Regions from separate parts of the Homo sapiens genome. Here region 2 is linked to region 1. Evidence: fine-mapped expression QTL. A gene starts in region 1. The other region holds a variant in brackets. All regions are shown on one strand. Distances are from middle to middle. Region 1 holds the start of SAYSD1 (SAYSVFN motif domain containing 1). Region 2 has its middle 27 kb from the start of SAYSD1.

Region 1 (8,338 bases):
GCCCTCACACCATGTGAATACTGAAGTGCTGAACAAGGATACTGAAGTGCTGAACAAGGATGCAAACACACCACTTTTACTTGCTATAGTTTGCAAAACACAGCAAAAGGTGGAATTTTAGTGAAGAAACAAGCAAATGTACATGCTGTTGATAGGTTGAAAAGAACAGCTCTCATGCCTGTTGTACATTATGGCTTGTCAGGTATAGTTAGCATTCTTCTTCAACAAAATATTGTCTTTACTCAAGAGTATGTATGAACAGACTGCAGATTATGCTATTTCTGGTGGTCTGACAAGCACTCACAACAAATTTTGCAACATTAAAAAAAAAAGATACTTGAAAATGGTCTTCAAAATGACAACCCAGAAGAAGCATCCAAGAAGAATGCAAGTTTGAAAACAGGAGGAGCAAGTGCAAAAGATTCTGGGAGTTCTGAAGCATCTGCATTCAGTATTTAAAAAAAAACTGTGTGTTGACTCATGGCCTAAACCAGATGATGAAGACTTGACTTTTACTACCAAGCAGTGTATCCCTGAGAGTGTTTCAAAGTCTTTACTTGGACCTTCATATAAAAAAGGAAAAAATATATAGTAAATGGAAAGGGAGAAGGGCCTCCTGAAAAACATCCTTCCCTAAAGCCTACCATGGAAATGAAAGATTCTGTTGTGAAGAAAGCAATAGAAAGGAAGAACGAACAAACATCCAAAGCAGAACAAGAAGTACAAGTGACATCAGAGGAAGAACAGGAAAAGCTTGAAAGTGAAAATAAACAGCCACAGGTTGAAGAAGCTAGAAAGAAGCACGAAAGTTAAAAAAAAAAAGTATCAAAAAAACGTATATGATAGTACATCTGCTGACGATGATGATAAATTAATTCAACAAAGAAAGAGTGGAAAAACTTACCATCAGCGATTTCCTAGGAAGGAGAACAAAGAGTATGCTAGGCCTGCAAAGAAAATGTCAAATGAAAAGAAAAAGGTCAAAAAGCAAACTCATTTAGAGATGAACCTGATGACTTAACTCGGCCCTCTGAAACAGCTTCAGAGGATCATGAGAAACCTTACCCTCATTGTAAGAAGTTTATGATGCTCATTAAGCAATATGGAATGGATTGTAATGATTCTCGTATCCTAATGGAAGTCCAGAATGCATTTCTTTCATGTGAAAAGTCACTGGACCTTAAAAAAAATTATCTGTGAACAACTTACACTAGACAATAAGAAATATGAAAACTGAGTTTAGTGTACTGAAGGAGCTATCCAAAACACAAGAAACGAAGTCACAGTTCAATATCAAAAAGTAGAATGGAAACAGGAACTCTACAGTTTGCAGCTTAGAAGAAGATGAGAAGAAATGCTAATATGTTATATGAAAAAATTAGGGAAGAGTTAGAAAGGAAAGTGGAGCAACATAGGAAAGAAGTTGAAGTAAAAGAACAGCTTAAACTGACTATCGGATCACTAGAAATAGAATTGAAGGCTTGAAGAAATACTTTAAGAAAAAAAAAGATCTGATGCATGAAAATTGCTTGTTGAAGAGAGATATTGCCTTTATTGTGTATGTAAGTATACACAATAAAAAATAGGAACCTCGAAAGGGAAAAAGGACATTGAAATTGTTAAAGAAATGAATGATGACCTTCAAGAGACTATAAAACTGAATGGAAAAACATTAACAAAAACAGTATCCCAGTATGGTCAACAGCTTAACGACCTCAAAACTGAGAATACAATGCTCAAGTCTAAACTGGAGAAGGAAAATCAAAACAAGGAAAGACTGGAAGCTGAAGTTGAGTCATTCCATGCTAGACTGGCTGCTGCTATAAGTGAGTGTGATCAAAGTGTGAAAACAAAAAGAGACCTAGAACTTGCTTTACAGAGAGCACAAGACGTTTCTTTACAAGAAAGAAAATGAGTTCTGATATTTCTGAACTAAAAGATAATAATGAGTTTTTAACTGAGCAACTTTCCGAAGCTCGAATTCAATACCCTAAAAAGTAAACTCCATGACACAAGAAATTCTCTCAGAGAAAAGGTTTTGGTTTTATAAAGTGTACAAAAGGACCTAAGCCAAGTAAATCCTTTGGAAAGTGGGACTACGTAGAGGAGAGAATATCTCAACTACAACATGAAAATCTGTTGCTTCAACAACTAGATGGTGCTCATAAGAAAGGGGATAATGAACAAAAGGTAATTAATATCCAAGGATGCTGTCTTGAGAGTGAAAAGGAAGGTCTTCTGCTAGAAGGGAAAAATAAGGAATTAATCAATGAATGCAATCATTTAAAAGACTGTTTCAGTATGAAAAAGAGAAAGCAGAAGGAGAAGTAAGTATCAAAAAAGATAAATATTTTCAAACTTCCAGAAGGAAAATTTAAAATATTTGGCTACGGCTACATGTTGAACCTAGTTGAATATAAAAATTAATAGACAAAAAATGTGTTTACCATACTGTATAATTCCATTTACATGAAACATCCGGAAAAGACAAATGTATAGATAGAAAGCAGACTGACATTTGTGCGGGGCTGGGGTTGGAAATGGGTAGTAACTGCTAATGTGCAAGAGGGGTCTTCTTGGAGTGATAGAGACGTTCTAAAGTTGCAGTGATGGTTGCATGACTCAATAAATTTACTAAAAATCTTTGAACTGTATGTTAAAAGAGATAAATTCTGTAGTATGTAAACCTTATTTCAATAAAGCTGTTTCAATTAAAAAAACAAAAATTAAAAATAATTTAAAAAAATAGAATGCTAAAGAAATCTCTGACAGGCCACAGTGTGCCATCAAAATTGTCTGACATGAATTGTAAATTAGACTTTTTCTTTTCTAAACTAGAGGCAGAATCTGAAGAAAAAAAATTAAATGAGAATTTTCACACCAGAGCAAACCCAGAAATGATAAGTCAATGAAAATGAGCTTAAGGCAGAGTCCCTTATGGAAAAACAGAGCAATTAACAAGAAACTGGAGGTCCAGCATTTCCTCTCATCCTTTTGTCTGGCAATCAGCGTTTGGGTTCTCAATAATGGAAGTTTTTCTCTGAATTCAGTTTCTCTGGGTCCACCTCAATGATCTCATTCCTTTGGAAATGAGACATACAGTCAAAAGTTCATTGCATGGGTTAGACATTGTTTTTTAACTGCAGAGAGAAAAAGAATAAGGGAAATGGTTTCTAAAATCTTAAGCAAGTGTTGTACTTAGAAAGTTCTAGTCAACAATAAAATTATCCAAAGACAATTAACACAAACTGCACACAAGGAAATGGATTGTCTGAACTCTGCTGCGCTCTTTTCACCTTTCTGCAAGTCAGCTGGAATCCTGTATATCACTGAGAATATCAAATCAAAATTGAGTAATAGGTTCAGTAATTTTTAAAAATTCCCTCAAATCAAATGTTGTGCAATAATAGATGAACTTACAGGAAATAATTTTAAGGTGAGCAAGGTACACTTTTCTTCCAGTATATTTTCATTTTAAAAGGAATTTTTTAGTTCTTATTGCACTTATGAGGAACAAAGCACTGGGCACAAATTGTTACAAAGCACTCATCCCTTGATATGTTTTGTCTTGTATTTCCACATAGACATTTCAACCTCACTGCAAGCCACCTTACCATTTTACTGAGTTAAAACTAAATGAAAACACAAAAGGATGCAAATTAAATTCATCTGCAAAACAAGAGATTACCAAAACAATTAAATGTGAAAAGGTTATCATACTAAATCACTTTTTTTTGTTTGTGTCTTGAACATTCACTATGGAACTGGAATAAGCTTCTGCCACTACCGGCAGTTACAGCTACCACACTTTGGTAAATTCTGTATTCAAACGCATTTCTAAGTCACAGGCTATCTGGGCTACTAGCTGCATGTGCCCCAGGTGCGAATCAAATGAAGTTTTAATTACTGCTACTTGTGATCGGTATCCAATTAGACCTTTTACCCTCCTCCATTAGCAGAGGGCTGTGGCTCAACTTGGTTGTGGAGAGGTTTCCCAATGCCACAGGGCGTCACGATAACTCAATTCGGAGTGAATAATTTAAGAGCAGAGGTGCTTTCTCCCAGGACCCTCGACTCTCGCTGGAATCAGGACCTGCGTGGGTCGCGGGCTGGAAAGAAAATGTCAAAACTGGTAACAGTGCTGACACGTGTGGCCGGAGATGAGCGGTCCGGCCCTCGATCAGGATGGGGGGCCAGTAGCCCCGCCTCCGGCAGCTAGGGCCACACCCCCGGCAGCTAGGGCCGCGCCCTCGACTGTGGCTCCGAGGCCAGGTCCTAGGGCCGAAGTTTCCATCGTCTCACCTGAACTAGGCCGGGCTGGGCCCGGGCACTCGCGGGCCTAGGTTTCCATACCAGGAACCGCTTTAGCCAGCCTGGGGCTGCCTTTAGAGTCGCTGCTGCTTCCGCCTTCTCTCCTGGGGTTTGTGCGCCCTGACTGGCAGCAGGGGGTTGGGCCGCCAGACCCGCCCGTTTCCGCGCCGCCCGAAACTCAGCTAACCGCTGTTCCATGGCGCGCGCCTCGCGTCCGTTGGCCGATAAGGGAGCGCGCGCCCGCAGGCCGCACAGCAGTTGCCTCCGCTCGGCCCGCGCCGGCCGCCGTGCGCCTGCGTGGCAGAAGCCCCTGCTGAGCATGCGCACTGGTGTGACCCGCGTCTCCTCCGTTTGTGAAGTCTGGCGGGTCGCGTGTATACTCAGCCGTTCTCTCTTCACAGGCACGTGGACACAGTGTCACCTCCTCAAGCCAAGTCTAAAGCACAGGGCTGCCCCATTGCCCTCTCCCAAAGGCCGCTCTGCCTTGCTGCATCTCACTTAAGGGCTCGAGGCCCCACTGATCCAGCGTCCTGTATTCGGGATCTCTGTTGCTGGGCCCCAATGAACAGCGCCACAGTGAGAAGATGGTTCCAGGGGTTAGGAGAGGCCCGTGATCTCTACGACATTCCAGCGTCAGAGGAATAACAGGCTACATCTTACCCTTTTTCTCTTATCAAGGAAAGGGTATGCCAATCTTAGTACCTGGAGGGTGACTTTCTCACTGCTCACAAAGCAGGCTGTGCAGCTCCATCATTGGTCTTGCCACGTTGGGAAATTATCTCGTTTTGTGTCTAGATACGTCAGAACCTTAAAAAAACCAACAACAAAAACTTTTATTGGGGTGCAACATAAAATACACATCTTAAGAATATGACTCAGTAGATTTGCTCTTATGTATGCACCTGTGTAACTACCACCCAGATGGAGAGAAAGAACATTTCTGTACTCTGGGAGTTTCCTTGTGCCCTCTCCCAATCAGTACCCTCCCAAAAGGACACAGTTCAGGTTAGGGGCTGTTTTATACGTTCTTAAAGCTGTAAGCATCTAGCTAAGTGTCACTTACATAATTAAGACTCAAATATTTGTTGGATCTGGCTGAGGGTGACTCGAGAAATTAGACAAATTAGAACAGAGTCATCCATTCATTTAACAGACGTTTACCTAGGGCCTGCTCTGTCTAAAGTCACAGGCACTGGGGATGCTGGGATGAAAGGAAAAAACAAACAAAAACCTGTTTTCTTAGAGCTTACACTCCAAATGGAAATACAGACAATAAACAAATGTGTATCTACATATTTCATGTCATATCAGGTACTGATAAGTGCTGTGAAGAAAAGTGAAGCAAAGTAGGCAATGGTGGAGGTATTAGAGAAGACCTCCCTGAAGGTTTGTCATTTGGGCATAGACTTAAATGAGTGAGGTATGTAGATATCTGAACAGGAGTGTTTCAGTCAGAGGAACAAGTGCAAAGGTCCCGAGGCCTCAAATAGCACGCTTGACTTGTTCACAGAACATCAGGGAGGCTGTTATGACTGGATTGGAAGGAGGGAGAGGGAGGCAGGGAGGGAGGGAGGGAAGGAGGGAAGGAGGGAGAGAGGGGGAGAGAGGGAGGGAGGGAGGGAGGAAAGAGTGACAGAAAATAAAGATGCCAGGGGCAAGATCGTGCATGTAAGGCCCTGTAGGCCATGGTGAAGACTAAGTGTGGTGGGAAGCAGTTAGTGGATTTTGAGCAGGAGATGATATGATATGACATATTTTTAAAGGATTACACTGGCTGATGGAGGTGGGACCCTGGAAGATTGCAAGAATAGAAGAAGGGAAACTAGTTAGGAATAAATATGGTAGAATGAGAAACTGTAGTAGTTTGAGCTAGAGTGGTAGTGATGGAGGTCACGAGAATTGGTCAGATTCTGAATGTATTTTGAAGACCTGAGCCAACATGGTGTGAGACGGATTGGATGTGGAATGTGAGGAAAAAAGGTATCAAGGATGACAGGGCCAGCCATCGTGGCTCACGCCTATAATCCCAGCACTTTGGGAGGCCAAGGCAGGGGGATCGCTTGAACCTAGGAGTTCAAGACCAGCCTGGGGAACATAGCAAGACCTCATCGCTATTAAAAAAAAAAAAAAAAAAAAAGGATGACAGGTTTCTTCCATTACTACCCCACTCCTCCTGCCCCCCCATATACATACACACATGCCCTGAGCAACCAGGCAAATGATGCTGGGGCCCTCTATTGAAATGAGGGCACACTGGGAGGAGAGAATTACAGAATAAACACTGGAAGTTTTGTTTTGGACATACAAAGAACTTGGGATGCCTATTGGATATCCAAAAAATAGGCAGTTAGATAGTGAAAATGATTTGAGGGGAAAGTCAGGACCGGAGGCACACACTGGGAGTCATCAGCATGTGTATATTTAAAGCTGTAAGACTAGATAAGATCAAACAGTGAGTGTGGATAAGAAGAGATTTGAGGGCTGAGCCCTGAGTGGATTAGAGATGGTTTGTAAGAGAAAAGAATGGGATTATTACACCACAATGTCCTCTCTTTGAGAAACCACAAGAGGAAATTTCTTGCCCATTTTGGTGTCAGGAGTATGTCTGCTTCTCTTGAGAGATGGGATTCTTTAACCGATTTTGTCTCCCACTTGATAATGACTCTAAGACCTTAGGCCCGCATCTTGCAGGTGTATAGAATTAAGGCATACAATTTGTGGGCGGTTGCAGTCAGGGTCCCTGACAGGAAACGTGGCACCTTCCAAAGGGTGAAGTAAGAAGGGCTTAGTGAAGGAGTAAGTTACAAAGGTGTGGCAGGATGAAGGAAGCCAGCAAGGGATGGTTCACAGGAAGTGCTACCTGTCTCTAGGCCCAAAGCATCAGGAGGACAGAGCAGTTATCAGAACCCAGTGAGCCCTGTAGCTATAGGAGAAGCAAGGAGACACAGGAGCCCTTCAGGGAGCATAGAACAGGTAGAGAAGGGTGGAAAGAGGATCAGAAGAGGCAAACAGAACATCCAGGCCAGAGCTAATGTGGTTCCTGCTCTGTCTTGCTTTGGAAACCTTATTTTCTTTTTGCTTTGTTTTATTTATTATGAATTTACTTTTACTTGGTGCTTTGTAAGCCTCTTTAAATCCTTTTTGGAAGAGGTTAAAAGAATAGAAAAAAGAAAAGATGAAAGAGACCATCATGAAGAACAACTCCTGCCAAGCCAACTTTATTTCCTCTTTGGACGGGATTATGAGACTAGTAAATAAGAAGGGTCCCCAAAATGTGCTTAATGTGTGAATTTCATTAATTTTTATTATGAAATATTTTGTAAATGCCACATTTTACATATATATAATGTATATGCCATATACATAACATATATAATGTGTATGTGTCATACATATAAGTTATAAATAAAATACCCACATGATATGGTTTGGATCTGTGTCCCTGCCCAAATTTCATGTCAAATTGTAATCCCCAGTGTGGAGGTGCGGCCTGGTGAGATTGGATCATGAGTTTTTTTCTAATGGTTTAGCACCATCCTCCTAGTGCTGTCTTGTGATAGAGTTCTCACTAGATCTGGTTGTGTAAAAGTGTGTGGCATGGCTGGGTGCAGTGTCTCACGCCTGTAATCCCAGCACTTTGGGAGGCCAAGGCAGGTGGATCACTTGAGACAAGGGGTTTGAGACCAGCCTGGCCAACATGGTGAAACCTTGTCTCTACTAAAAACATAAAAATTAGCTGGGCATGGTGGCACACGCCTGTAATCCTAGCTACTCGGGAGACTGAGGCATGAGAATTGGGTGAACCCAGGAGGTGGAGGTTGCCGTGAGGTGAGATCGTGCCACTACACTCCAGCCCGGGCAACAGAGCGAGACCCTGTCTTGGAAAAAAAAAAAATTGTGGCACTTTCCTGCCCCTTCTCTCTTCCTCCTGCTCCAGCCATGTAAGACCTGCATGCTTTCCCTTCACCTTCTGCCATGATTATAAGTTTCCTGAGGCCTCCCCAGCTATGCTTCCTATATAGCCTGC
Region 2 (8,338 bases), 28 kb after region 1:
AGGCCTCGCCCACTTGCTGAGAATTTCCTATTAGTTTTTTTTTTTTTTAGCTGTCTATTCGTTATCATGAGCATACAGTCAAGTTTTACATATAAGGAAAAGCTCTAATATGGAAGAAAAAACAATTTGGCAGAAACAAAAACTATGCAGGAAAATTTTATTTCCCAAATAAATTTTATAATCAATATTCATTGAGAAGTAAAAGAAATTCCATGAAACAAGAACAGTATGCTATAAAAAAGGAATACTTAAGGAGATTACAAAGCTCTTAAAAATTAAAAAAAGATAAGGAAAATGAAAAACCCTGAGAAGGAAGAAATATTGAAGAAATATCACCTCATTTCCATCTCCCTCCTCATAAAGAGCAAAAATATACAGAAAGAAACTAAAAGGAAACAGATGAAACTGAATAGAAGACCAGTCACGAAGTTTCAATACTGCAATAATAGAAATTCTAAAAAGAGAGAACAGAGAAAATGGGGAAGGGAAGACCCACTCATGACCTTGTCTACCTATTCCTCCAGGAGAGGCTCTTGTAAACCCTTGGGGAAGATGAAACCAGATTACCCAGACACTCTGTTCAGCTTATCTCTCTCCTGGGCACCTTTATAAAATAGGCAACACTACCCTTTAATTCTCAGCTAGATTTGTGCTTCTACTTAATATACATTGTTATGAGATATATACCTAGGTGGTAAAACTATAACGAAAATCAGGATGGGGCCAAGTGTGGTGGTTAATGCCTTTAAGCTGAGGTGGGAGGATTACTTGAGCAGCCCAGGAGTTTGAGACCAGCCTGGGCAATATACTTTATAGAGACCTGATCTCTATAAAATTTTTTTTTAAAGTTATCTGGGTGTAGCGCTGTGCAACTGTAGTCCCAGCTACTTGGGAGCCTGAGGTGAGAGGATCGATTGAGCCTGGGAGGTTGAGGCTACAGTGAGCTGCGGTCATGCCACTGCCCTCTGGGCTGGGCAACGGAGTGAGACCTTGTGTCAACAACAAGAAAAAATAATCAAGATAAACATGAGCACAAAAATCAAGACAGTGTTTACCTCTGGGGAGGAAGCTGGAGGTTTTATTTAGAAAGGGGCATTTGGAGGACTTCTAAGGTTAGTGTTCTAAGGTTAGTGTTCACTTTCTTAACTTTTGTAGTAAATACATAGGTATTAAATGTACTATATTTTAAACTCTACATATATCTCAAATACTCTTTTATACATACGATACACTTCACAATAAAAACTTCCATACCAAGAAGACACCAAAACAAACCTACCTTGTGAAGTAATAAGATTATATGTTCCCATGTACTGTGTAGTCTTTGAACAGAGGGAAATAGGAAAGGGGGTGCAAGAGCTCTCCCTCTTCTAGAGGCCTAATCAGGGGTGGCAGTAATCACAATAAAATACCCGACCAGCAGCACAATGCTGATTTTCAGACCTGTTTAATAGATACATTTTACAGTGGTTAGAATCCTATTGTAATAGCCTGGAGTCCATGAAAAACAGCTCTGCTGAGACCGGCAGTTAAAAACCATCCCCTAAGCTGTTAGTGAGAGGGTAGGTGGCTGTGTATTCTTTCTTTGCCCACTCTGATCCATTCTCTGCCCTTTCCACCTTGCTCTCTGCCCCAGGGGCTGACTTCTATGCACATCACCCACGGTCCTCTGTTCCTTGACTATCTGGGTTTTGCCAGTGGGAGGCACTGGCAGGAAATCAGAGGGGAGAAGGAAAGAGAAGTGAAGGGTATTTCCTCCCCTCTGCCTCATCATCCCTTGTTGTTTCTCTTAACCCCATACAGCCCGCCAAAAATAGTCCCTTATTACATTATTTTCAGTTAAATCCTTTTCATTATGTCTTTCGTATCTTGCCAGGACCCTGGCTGCTACATTATTTTAGTAGTTATATGTCCCTGCCCAGTGATCCTTTTTTATGTTAATGTGGATTTTGAGGTCCAAACTAGTCTTTAGAATTCCAAATAAGTACCTCTACTGGGGTGGCATTGCAGGCAGTATTCCAGAGACGTTCCCATGTGTGCTCTCAAATCAGACTGTGCAGTTGTGTTGTCTCCACAAGCAGCCTTGTCCAAGGGAAGATATGCATCTAAAAGCATCTCCCTCCAATGGGTGTCTGCAGCGCTAGCTTTTTCTGGAAAGGGTACACATTGGTTTAATACTTGATGAATTATACTGCTAGCTAAGGATGGAAAGGTCTGGGAGGATTTGCCTCTGGCTTGTGGAATTTGAATTCTGTCCCTGTCTCCACCCAGGCACTGGCAGGGATGCACAGTTCTCACCAGCATCCTTGCTGGTTTCTTTAAGAGATGACCTTTTCGTTTCCTATCATGGAATGAGTCGTCACTCATTCCACTCTTAGCATCTCTCATCATCTTCCTGTGGCCCTTCCCTTCTGAAGATCAAAGCTCATCTCAGGAGAAACTCCAGAGGGAAAAATAGCCAACAGAACCTCAGGCCCAGGCAGGAAAAGCAAGTAAACAAGTGATTGACGCACTTTGTACACAGGCTCTGAGGGAGGGGGGTGAGTGTGAGGAGGGGAAGTTGAGGAAGCTGTCCAGGATGGGGGCGGAGTCCCGGAGGGCTTGGGTAACAGCTCATTGTTCCTCAGGGCTCCTAGGGAATAAGGTAGGGCTCCAGCAAAACAAATGTGCCAGGAGGACAGGCTATTTGTGTTGATAAACACAAAAAGAGGGAAGTGACTAGATGGAGGGAGGGTGCGTTTGAATGGAATGTGCCTGATTCTGGGAATCTGTACACTTGGCTCCTAGGGGACATGGGAGGAAGAGGGAGAAGGCACTGGGACAAAAGGAGACAGCATTGAGTACCGTTAAACATGCAGGACTGAGAGGTGGGCAGAGCTGGGTTCAAATCCTGGGCCCTCGCTTTCCTAGCTATGTAACTTGGACCTATTGTTTGATTTCTCCGGGCCTCGGTTTCATTATGTGTGAAATGGGAATGGTTCTTTCTCACCCTTAGGTTTCCTTGAAGACTTAGTAAGACAATGTACTTTAGGTGTCTGACACATGGAAATTTCCCCCCAAAAAAGTTTATTGTTGTTAGAAAGATGTTGTATCAGCGAGGGAGGAAGCGGTGTGCTGTGGGGAGGCAGCACTGCATTGTCAAGTTCCTGGGTTGAGTGAAGGCTCTGCCCCTAGCCATTGTGGGCGCCTGAGCAGGTACTCATCTCATCTCAGCTCATCTCCGGAGCTGAGGGTGCCTCCCGGGAATGACGGTGCTGAACAAGCGGATCTCCAGGGTTCATTCTAGTGCCTAAAGCCTGGGTTCTAAAGAACTATAACCAAAGCATGACTAGGAAATTCTCTGATTTAAAACAAAAATAATGCAGACACAGCCAAGTGAGGTTTGTGCCCATTAGAGAAGTCTCTTTGGAAATTTTACTCTTATGATAGTGGTGCTGCCGTTTCTCCAAACATATTCAGAATGGTTTAGAATTATCTGCAGAGCCAGTTCTGGGACCACATAAGACAATCATCTCATCGCTTTAGAGGAAACAAATGTCTTCTTTCTTTTTGTTTATTTTTATTTTTTATTTTTATCCAAAAAAAGGCTCTCATTCCCTTAAGGCAAGTTAGATTCCAGTTTCAGTTTTGTGAACTACTGGAGGATTGTAACTTCATCTCTTTTATCCTTAATTTCTACCTATAGAAATTGGGAATAATAATATCCACCTCAGAGCGTGGACACAGATAAGACAAGGACGCAGAAAGCAGTACCAAGCAAGATGCTGGGCTCAGGGTAGGTGGTAAAACACATGCATATGGGCCAGGCGTGGTTGCTTACGCCTGTAATCCCAGCACTGTGGGAGGCCGAGGCAGGCAGATCACGAGGTCAAGAGATGGAGACCATCCTGGCCAAAATGGTGAAACCCCGTCTCTACTAAAAATACAAAAATTAACTGGGCATGGTGGCGCACATGTAGTCCCAGCTACTCACGAGGCTGAGGCAGGAGAATTGCATGAACCCAGGAGGTAGAGGTTACAGCGAGCTGAGATCACGCCACTGCACTCCAGCCTGGTGACGGAATGAGATTCTGTCTCAAAAAAAAAAAAAAAAAAAAAAAAAGGCGTATGTGCATACGCGCAGACAGACAGACAGACAGACAGACCTTTATCCTTTCATTCCTTCCACATCCCAATTACCTATTTTACCACTTTATCTGCAGAATAAATTCACAGCCCACTAAACTATCAGGCTCCAAATAATTTTCATTCATTTTGAAAAATCAAATATACTTTCAGAGGAAAAGATTTGCCACCATGAAGGATATTCAAAGGGATGTGCCCAGACTCTAAAGATATCTATTTACACCATTTATATGTGTGTGTGTGTTTGTGTACAGTTGGTATTTAGTAAAATCCTTAGCCCCTCTGAATCCCGCAGACAGATCCACAGCCGGTGCTGTGATGCTGAGCCAAGATTCAGGATGATGGACAGGGGCAGGGAAAGATTGAGGACCAGGATTCACTTTGGAGCCAGCCAGACCTGGCCCCCAGGCTCAGGGAAACCCACTTTGGCTGGGTGACCTCCATCAGTCACATCATCCTTTGAAGTCTCAGTTTATTCATCAGGAAAATGAGGACAATAACATAAGTCTCATAAAGTTTGAGGATCGTTAAGTGTTAACTTCATAAACAAGCAAAGAAGAGGCACCAGTGGCTGGGAACGTTAATTCTAATTAAGGCATAAGGCATCAAC[A/G]TGCTTGCATGATATCTCGTGTAGCAGGAAAAGATGGAGTCAGAGGAAAAGGCAGATATGCAGGCTTAACTCTGTCCCAGCACACCTTCTAGAAAGAAAACAGCTGTCTCCTGTAATGTCCAGCTCCCCTGCCCTTCCTAGGTGGAAGGGTGGTGTTTTGTTCTCTCCCGAGGAAACCATTTCTCAGTCTCTCACCTGGTGTAGTCCATTGGGCCCTGAAGCTACCAGGCCAGTTTCAGTCAGTGTTTATGAAATGCCTTTGCCGGAGGCTACCTGATTGGCTTATCAGCCCTGGCCCTGGTAGCATTTCCGTACAATGAGCAGTGACATTTACAGCTTCAAGAAGTGCAAGGGAAACATTTTTCTTGCAGACTCCTCTTTCTCTCTCTAATGAAGCGGTCATTATAATCTTTCAGAGATGGTGCTCAAAAATGTACCCTAGCTTCCCACAGGAGAAACACTGTAAATGTCAGACACCCGATCACACTGTCTGTCTGGAGTGCATAAAACCAGCTGCTTGAACGCTGGAAAACAAAAGTCATGTTTCTTCCTGTTCTGCAGCCAAGCCTGGCTTCCGCGCATGTGACCTGTGCGGTCGCGCGGAGTCCTTCACTCAGAAGCCTCTGTTCTTGGTTTAATAATCTGCATCTAAAACTGGCACTGTACCATATAAAAATGAATCATAAACTTTAGGCTAAGAATTTACGCTTCTTTGTTTTTCTTTACATAGTTACTTAATGTATTAGTCTGTTTTCCCACTGCTGATAAAGACATATCCAAGACGGGGTAGTTTATAAAGAAAAAGAGGATGAATGGACTCCCAGTTCCACGTGGCTAGGCCTCACAATCATGGTGGAAGTCAAAAGGCACGTTTTACATGGCAGCAGGCGAGAGAAGAGAATGAGAGAGCCAAGTGAAAGGGGAAACCTCTTATGAAACCATCAGATCTCGTGAGACGCATTCATTACCACAAGAAGAGTATGGGGGAACCTCCTCCATGATTCAGTTACCTCCCACCCACCCTGCCAACAACATGTGGGAATTATGGGGGCTACAATTCAAGATGAGATTTGGGTGGAGAGACAGTCAAACCATATCACTTAGTCTTTACTTAAAATGGGGTCTCACTAAGTTACCCAGACTGCTCTTGAATGCCTGGGCTCAAGCAGTCCTTCTTCCTCAGCCTCCCGAGTATCTGGGACTACAGGTGTGGACCACCATGCCTGGCTCCCTCTTTGTACTTTAAATAGCAAATAAAAAGCACCACAAGTTGAGGGATTGCAGAAGAAAGGAGAAAGCTCTTTGTTTTTGTATATGTAACAGCACTTTTGTTCTGCTTTTTGAATGAGGAGCGCTGCATTTTCATTTTGCACTGGGCCCCACAAATTATGTAGCCAGCCCTGTCTGAAGCAGTGTAGAAATAACAGCTGTCTTTATCAGAAGGATAGGAAATAAAAATAAACACAAATTATGAGCACTCTGGCATAACTCACCTAATGATAACCCCTCTCATTGAGACCTCCCTTCTCAGTGTGTGGGCTACTCACTGTCCATGTTTATTCTTAACTGCACTGAAAACTACCCACTGCTGGACACATGTTTCTCTCCATTTCAGTTGCTTGATATTTGATATTCTGAGATTGAATGTAGAATACTGTTTCAGGAAATTACAATTTCATAAACCCTGTGTGAAAAGAAAAGACTCTTCTTTGTCCCTGGACATCTCTCAAAGGCCCTGTCTCTCCATCAGTCTCTCTGCCTCCTGGCTCCTTCTCTTCCACCACTGCCAGTTTTCTCACCCACTTCACATTTCCTGGAGATGTTGGACTGGAGTCACTAGTGGCCCAGAATTCAGACAGGCAACCATGCTCTCCTCTACAATGATAGTGCAGGACAGTAGACAGAAGCAAACATATCTCAGTCACATACTCACCCCCACTTAGGTCAAGCCACACTGATGAACCACAGTTTGGCCTGAGTTCAGCTAAGTGGGATTTCCCAAAATGTGCTTTGAGGGATACTAAGCCCTGAAGATGCCCTATGAGAAATGTGTTCAGCGCTCAAAGGTATTCAAGAAGAACTGCATAATTGCTCCTCTTTTTGAAGACTCACAAAGCACGGTAGCATCATTAAAGGCTCTGAGAAGTTCTGCAGCAGAAAACAAGCACACAAAACATCCAACCTGTTTCACTTTGATTAACCCAGAATTTCCAAAACTTGTTATTTTCCAAACTGGTTTTTATCTGCTTCTTTGGTGTAACACCTTTGAACATGCCCAGAATCAACAGCGTGTTCCAAGCCAGGCTCTGCACTCACACTCTCTAGATTCACCTCATGGATCCCGGGGGATCCATGCTTGTGCCAGGATCCCGGAGGAAGTCTCTTAATCTCTCCAAACCTCAGTTTTGTCGTTAGTAAAATGGTATTAATAATCCTAGTTTATAGGGTTGTTGTGAGGATTAAATAAGATCACATGTGAAACATCCGCAGCAGGCACTTGATGAGGTTGTTATTAAAACGCTAAGGATGTGTTTCCCTCCCTGCCTGCAGCAGTCATATCCTGTCCGTCTTCATGTTTCCTGGTCCATCTGTCTCTGTTTTCTTAACCTTCAACTTTGGGCTCAACTTTGGGTTCATTATGAAGTCAGCACCCACCAGCCCAATAACCTTGTGTCTGTGGTTCTCATCTACCAGTGCTGGGGGCAGTTTTATAAATCACTTTTTCTTATCCCCATCCTGAAACTGGACTACAGTGGGGAGTGGATCAGAGGAGGTCAAGAAGCTACTTTTTGCTAGCCTATGATGAAAAGTTTATGGTTTGTGTCCTAATTTGAGAAACGTGGGGTTTTTAAAATGAGACATTCCTTTAAAGGCACCCAAGTGTTTACAGCTATAAATATCGCAATGCAATAAAATCTGGCTGGGCCCTCTGGCTGGTGAGAGACAGACACCCAGCCCCGAGCTCAACAACATCCAGAGGCAGGACATCATATTCATGGAAGATTCTGGTTAGTGGGACTCTGTTCTATGATAAGATTTTAAATCAATGCAAGAGCACCAATGCAGTTAATGCAATGTTCTGTGCCAGGCTGGCTATTGCTGATTCTTTCTCTGCTTCTTAGGTCATCACGACAGCTCTAATCACAGGGCCTTGTCTCTCTCTGATGGGCCTGATAAGGAGGATCCAGGGAACCTTCCTGAACCTACTGGGTAAATGCAGAGAGGAGAGCATCATGAAGCCACTTTTTAGTGAGGTCTTTTGTAGAAGTAGGAGTCAGGGCACAAAGCAGAAACCACTCTGTCAAGCCCCAGTCAGACTTAATCCAAGCAATCAGATGTCAGGGGCCACCCCGAGGCTAATGGTTCAAGATCACATTTCCACAGCTGCAGGTCAGAGGTCAGGAACTGCTGTTGCTGCCCCTGCTGCTGTCACCATGGTTGTTGTGAGCCCATGAAGCTGGTGACCAACAACTGGAACTTGGTGTCTGGCTACTGCAACCACATCTGCCCCTTCTTGTTAACTTCTTCCTTCTAAAATTGCCTGAATGTATCTCAGCCTAAATCTCTCTAGCTCCAAGGGAGTCTAAAAAAGTAATTTAGAAC

Evidence for each region. PIP is the estimated chance that this variant, and not a neighbour inherited with it, causes the effect.
Region 2: its variant is fine-mapped to the expression of SAYSD1 in whole blood (TOPMed, PIP above 0.99).

Annotation. Positions count from the first base shown.
Region 1 is chr6:39,110,581-39,118,918 of GRCh38, forward strand. It overlaps SAYSD1 (SAYSVFN motif domain containing 1), which reads right to left and starts at 4,606. Exons shown (of 2, transcript NM_018322.3): 1 at 4,303-4,606. The coding sequence starts at 4,509. It also overlaps the pseudogene ANKRD18EP. RefSeq lists an enhancer at 4,200-4,489.
Region 2 is chr6:39,138,424-39,146,761 of GRCh38, forward strand. No RefSeq gene overlaps it. Among named protein-coding and RNA genes, the nearest start is that of SAYSD1, 27 kb to the left of the region's middle. The variant A/G (reference allele first, on the strand shown) is at 4,736.